Regions from separate parts of the Homo sapiens genome. Here region 1 is linked to region 2. Evidence: fine-mapped expression QTL. A gene starts in region 2. The other region holds a variant in brackets. All regions are shown on one strand. Distances are between the middles of the regions.

What was found. PIP is the estimated chance that this variant, and not a neighbour inherited with it, causes the effect. A credible set is the group of variants that fine-mapping cannot tell apart.
Region 1: its variant is the best candidate, but not a certain one, in a credible set for the expression of CDKN1C in whole blood (TOPMed, PIP 0.61).

The regions. Positions count from the first base shown.
Region 1 is chr11:2,832,923-2,835,814 of GRCh38, reverse strand. All of the region lies in intron 15 of KCNQ1 (potassium voltage-gated channel subfamily Q member 1), which reads right to left. Among named protein-coding and RNA genes, the nearest start is that of KCNQ1-AS1, 27 kb to the left of the region's middle. RefSeq lists an enhancer at 1-846. The variant C/T (reference allele first, on the strand shown) is at 1,707.
Region 2 is chr11:2,884,240-2,887,131 of GRCh38, reverse strand. It overlaps CDKN1C (cyclin dependent kinase inhibitor 1C), which reads left to right and starts at 1,357. Exons shown (of 4, transcript NM_001122630.2): 1 at 1,357-1,498; 2 at 1,666-2,462. The coding sequence starts at 1,676. RefSeq lists enhancers at 1-695, 696-1,531, 1,532-2,367.

The DNA.
Region 1 (2,892 bases), 51 kb after region 2:
CGCCGCCTCCATGAGGAAGGCTTTTCCTCTGTGAGCCCCAGGCCACCCTTTCCCTCCTTTAAGTAATTACTTAAGTCCCTTGCCAGGGCCCTCCCAGTACCCTTTCTAAAGACACCCCTGCCCCAGCATGCTGCAGGCTCCTGCTCCACTTTCCTCTCAGGCCCTCGTCGCTGTGGTGCTGCCTTTGTTTTCTGTCTCTGCCACGGCAGGGGGTCAGCTCCTTGGAGGTGGGGCTTCTGCCCTTGCTGTACCACTGCCTGGCACACAGTAGGTGCTCAATAAAGACTTGCAGGGTGAGCTGCCTGAAGAATAGTCACCAGAGGCCAGAAATGTCTAGAGCTCTGCCGGTAGGGTGACTGGCCGAGGAGCCTGGCCTGCATGTGTGCGTGTGTGTGTGTGTGTGTGTGTGTGTGTGTGAGTCAGGGTTTATATGCAGGTGTCTACAGGAGACATGCTGGGTTCTGTGCTGGGTGTGAGGAATATGGGAGCAGAACCCCAGGGAGGTGGCAGAGACTTGGGGGCCAAAGGGCTGGGGTGCAGGGGGGCAACAGCCAGGTGCCACTGGCCACCCCAGCCGCAGGGAGCCCTGCCCACCCTCCAGGTGCCTGGATGTCCAACCTCACTGCTATTCCCACCTCAAGCCAGGCCTGGAGATGGAGGCCCCATGACTCAGCCAGGGCCGGTTTGCAGCTGCGGCTGACCCAGACGGGCGGGCAGCCCCCAGCCCCCGGGCCTGCACCCAGGACAGGGCCGCCCTCCCTCCCTCCCCCGCTTCTGGCTCCTAGGACAGGATTCTCTGAATTCAGCTCCCCTGAGGCTGGGGCCAGGTTGGAGGCCAGGCCTGGGGGCCCTGGGCTGGGGTCCCAGATAGGGGCTGGGCGGCCAGGCTTGGAATCTGGAATCCAGCCCCATTCCTGGCATCTGCAGGAGCCTCGTGGGGAGGGAGACTTGGGATGGACTTCAACCAGCCAGGGCTGGATTCTTGCCCCGGAACCTGCATTCCTGGGGCAGCCAAGGGATCCTTCCCACTTCTGGGCCCAGCTTGGCCCTGCCTGGCATTCGAGGCCCATCTGGGGCTTGGGGGTGTCTCCCCAACTCTCAGACATAAGGACACCCTTCCAAGCTTGTTCCTTCACCTGGCGGGGCCCTGAGCCCCACACCCCTCCCCTGTCCTTTCTCCATCCGACATCAAGCGCCTCCCTGCCTCTGCTCGCACAGTCTCTGAGATGGGGAACTCAGCACCTCACAGGTGGGCCCAGCTCTGGTGCTGTCTGTGTTGGGGGAGCTGGGGCAGCCCCCAAAAGACCTTGGAGACAGACCCTCAGAGGCAGGAGCAGAGGCTGGCAGTGGATGCTGTGCCTGGAGGCCTTGAGGGCGAGGTGTGATGATGAGGCCCAGGCTGCAGGGCTCTTTCTGGCTCTCCAGCTCCGGAGAACAAGGGATTTCCTCCTGCTCTGCCCACCCTCCCCAGCCAGTGCATGCTCAGCCTCAGCACCGCACCTGGGCGCCCTCCATGATCTGCCCCACCTGGACACATGGCTCGAGGGGCACACTACCATGCCATACACCATGTCACGCACCTTGCCACTCCACATGCTACACAACCCAGCCCCAGCCCCAGCCATGCCATGTGCCACACCATGTGCCACACCACTCCCACCATGCCACCACCATGCCATGCACACAGCCACGCCAGGCACAGCAGG[C/T]GCTGAGCCCATCCTGCACGAATGCAGCAGTGTGTGTGTGTAAGGGGACCTAAGCCTCTGCCCATGTCCTCCCGGGAGCCAGCCCCTGGCTGCACTCCTTGTGGCTAAGTGGGGTTCTGCTGCCCCCCAGCCCCTGCTGACAGCCTGGGAAGGGGGTGAGGAGGTGGGGGAGCAGGCTGGGAGGGCAGGAAGTTGCTGGGGCTCCAGCCCCATCTGGACATATTTGGCAAGCCCCGCTCCCCGCCGCTCCTCAGCCTGTCGGAACGGCCCCTGGCGCTGGTGCTGGACACTCTGGCCTTCCCCCAGCTGCCTGTCCCACCTTCCCCACTGTTGTCTCGGTCCCGTCTCGGGGCACTTGCCCCAGTTCCTGCTGCTGGGCCCAGTGGACTGCACGGTCACAGCCAGGTGCAAACATGGGACCTGGTGTTTGCTCACCTCTCTGAACCTCCATTTTGCCTCTGCAAGACAGGGGCTGCAAATGGAGTGAAGCGGGGAAGCCTGCCCACCCCAGGAACCCAGCCTCTTGCCTCCCAGTGACACGGTTGCTGGCGGGGCAGCAGTGGGGATGCTCGGGGACCCCTGCCCTTGAGGCTGGCTCCCAGGTCCACGTGCCTGGGGCTGACTTGGGGCCTGACAGCTGCGCCCAGGTGCCCACCCTAAGGCTGAGACTCCCTCACATCTATGCAGTCTTCACAGAGGTCCCAAGGGGCTCTGGGATCCTATGAGGGGAGAAGCTTGGAGAGGGGTGGGGCATGTGGGCAGGTGGGGGGAGGACTCGGCTCCAGGGCACTGGCCCGGCTTGGCTGCCCTGACTCTGCCATTGTGTCCAGAAGTCCACAGGCCTCCCGTCCCTCAGGGAAGCAAGAAGGGGCTATGTCCTCTGCCCTGGCGCGTGGGCCCCTTGCGTGCAGGGGCTTCCACAGGGCCTCTAATTGCCTCGACTCCAGAGGCACACAGGCACCCCTACCCAGCATGTTCTCCCACACCCACAGCCTCCTAGCTGTGGGATAACCATGGACGATGCTGCCAACCTCTTATCCCCTGGTCTGGTGGGCAGTCCTTGGGCACCAGCCTGCCCTGAGCAGGGAACAGCAGCTGCATTGCCCACATCTGTCTCCCACTGGGAGGAGGCTAGTGTCCAGGTCACTCTGGGGGAGAGGGGAGGGACCAGGTCAAAGTGGGAGAG
Region 2 (2,892 bases):
GGTTCAGGGGACCGCACCTTCCCTCCCTCCCAGAGGTCTCTCTGCTGGCTCACAGGCTCACCTGAGATAGGGGCTTAGATCTCATGGGCTGCTGGACCCTCCAACAGGTGTCTGACAGTCCCCATCCCGATCTGGGAGGCTCCTGGTTTGAGGAGGGGGCTCCCTGCCTCATGGTAGGTGGGCCAAAAGGGAGGCAGCAGGAAATAATGGTCTCTTTTGGTCTGGCCTGGCTGGGGTGAAGCACCGTGTGTGTGCGTGCGTGTGTGTGTGTGTGTGTGTGTGCGTGCGCGCACGACCGAGGTCTGTACCAGGAAGGGCTGCAGGCGGGGGAGGGGCATGGTCCTTCACAGCCCCTTCCCCTATGACCTCGGGCAGATCTTTCACTTTTACCCAGTACAACAGCTTCCAGCCAGCCTGGACAGGCAGATCCCGGGGCTGGAGTGGTCTGGCCCAAGGCTGAGAAGGGCTGGGACCCCCGACAGTGACATGATGGGCTCAGCCCCTGTTCCATCTACTGGGCAGGGTGGGCCTCCGCAGATAGCGGCTTCAGACTCCAGCTCCAGGGGGCTGGTGGGAGTCTCTCAAGGTGTCCCACACATGGTCCCTCGGGGAAAGAGTGGAGCTGACCCCTGTCCCCCCTCCCGACTCGAGGGCCTTAGGGCCAGCAGGTGTGTGAGGGCTCCAGGCGCGCGGAGCCCTCGAAGGGACACCAGCCCAGCAGCAGCAGGCCGCGCGGGGGCAGCCGAAGACCCCATCCGGCGCAGGCCAGGGCCGAGCTGGCAGCGGCGGGTCCAAGCCTCGTCAGCTGGCGCAGGAGGCCCACGGGCGAGCGCGGGACGGAGCTGGGCGCCGGGGTCCGGACCGGGCCGGGGTCGAGTTGGGCCTGGCCGGACACCGGACCCGCCAGGAGCCGGCCCCTGCCGCGCTGGGCTGAGGCCCCCGCCTGCAGACAAAGGAGCCGGCGGGGGGCGGGAGCCGGGGGGGTGGGGGAGTGTTGCAGGGGGGATGGGGCGAGGGGGCGGGCGTCGCGGTGTCACGTTACCGCCCGCAGCGCCCTTTAACTCCCGCCCCCGCCCCGCTCACCGCCCCCTTCCCCTGCTACAGCGCGCTCGCCCCGCGGCCGCCAATCAGCCGCGCGCCCCGGCCGCGCGCCCCGCCCCGCCCCCGGTGGGTGTGCGCGCGGCCAATGGGCGGTGCGCGGGGGCCGGGCCGCGGCGGGGCGGGGCAGCGGGGCGGCCGCCAATCGCCGTGGTGTTGTTGAAACTGAAAATACTACATTATGCTAATCGCGGCCGGGCCCGCGCGCACGGGGGTGGGGCCCGCGCGTATAAAGGGGGCGCAGGCGGGCTGGGCGTTCCACAGGCCAAGTGCGCTGTGCTCGAGGGGTGCCGGCCAGGCCTGAGCGAGCGAGCTAGCCAGCAGGCATCGAGGGGGCGCGGCTGCCGTCCGGACGAGACAGGCGAACCCGACGCAGAAGAGTCCACCACCGGACAGCCAGGTAGCCGCCGCGTCCCTCGCACACGCAGAGTCGGGCGGCGCGGGGTCTCCCTTGCGCCCGGCCTCCGCCCTCTCCTCCTCTCCTTTCCCCTTCTTCTCGCTGTCCTCTCCTCTCTCGCTGCCCGCGTTTGCGCAGCCCCGGGCCATGTCCGACGCGTCCCTCCGCAGCACATCCACGATGGAGCGTCTTGTCGCCCGTGGGACCTTCCCAGTACTAGTGCGCACCAGCGCCTGCCGCAGCCTCTTCGGGCCGGTGGACCACGAGGAGCTGAGCCGCGAGCTGCAGGCCCGCCTGGCCGAGCTGAACGCCGAGGACCAGAACCGCTGGGATTACGACTTCCAGCAGGACATGCCGCTGCGGGGCCCTGGACGCCTGCAGTGGACCGAAGTGGACAGCGACTCGGTGCCCGCGTTCTACCGCGAGACGGTGCAGGTGGGGCGCTGCCGCCTGCTGCTGGCGCCGCGGCCCGTCGCGGTCGCGGTGGCTGTCAGCCCGCCCCTCGAGCCGGCCGCTGAGTCCCTCGACGGCCTCGAGGAGGCGCCGGAGCAGCTGCCTAGTGTCCCGGTCCCGGCCCCGGCGTCCACCCCGCCCCCAGTCCCGGTCCTGGCTCCAGCCCCGGCCCCGGCTCCGGCTCCGGTCGCGGCTCCGGTCGCGGCTCCGGTCGCGGTCGCGGTCCTGGCCCCGGCCCCGGCCCCGGCTCCGGCTCCGGCTCCGGCCCCGGCTCCAGTCGCGGCCCCGGCCCCAGCCCCGGCCCCGGCCCCGGCCCCGGCCCCCGCCCCGGCCCCGGCCCCGGACGCGGCGCCTCAAGAGAGCGCCGAGCAGGGCGCGAACCAGGGGCAGCGCGGCCAGGAGCCTCTCGCTGACCAGCTGCACTCGGGGATTTCGGGACGTCCCGCGGCCGGCACCGCGGCCGCCAGCGCCAACGGCGCGGCGATCAAGAAGCTGTCCGGGCCTCTGATCTCCGGTGAGCCCCGCACGGCCCCGCCCCGGCCCGGCCCGGCCCCGCTTTGTCCGGCCGGCCGGTCCCCCCAGCCCTCGGGGGCCTCGCTGGGTTCCCGCCTCCTCCCGTGGCATTAAAGGGCCCGCAGCGCTCAGGGCGCGGCTGCGCCCTTACCCCCCTCCCCGCCCCGTTGTTGTGCCCTCCAGCGGCTTCGCGCGGGCGGGGTGGGAGGCTGAATCCCGGCCGCGACCCCCCGGGAGCGCAGTTTTCGCCCCCGGCCGCGGGAGCCCCTCCCCGGGCGCGGCCGGGCGCCGTGAGCACGGCGTGGAGGGGGTTAAGCGCGGCGGCGGCCCCGGGGGGCTTGGCCGCGGGACAAGGGGAAATGCTTACACAGCACATTGCGCGGCGACGTAAACAAAGCTGACCCGCCGCGGACCTCGGCGCGGGCGGGGAC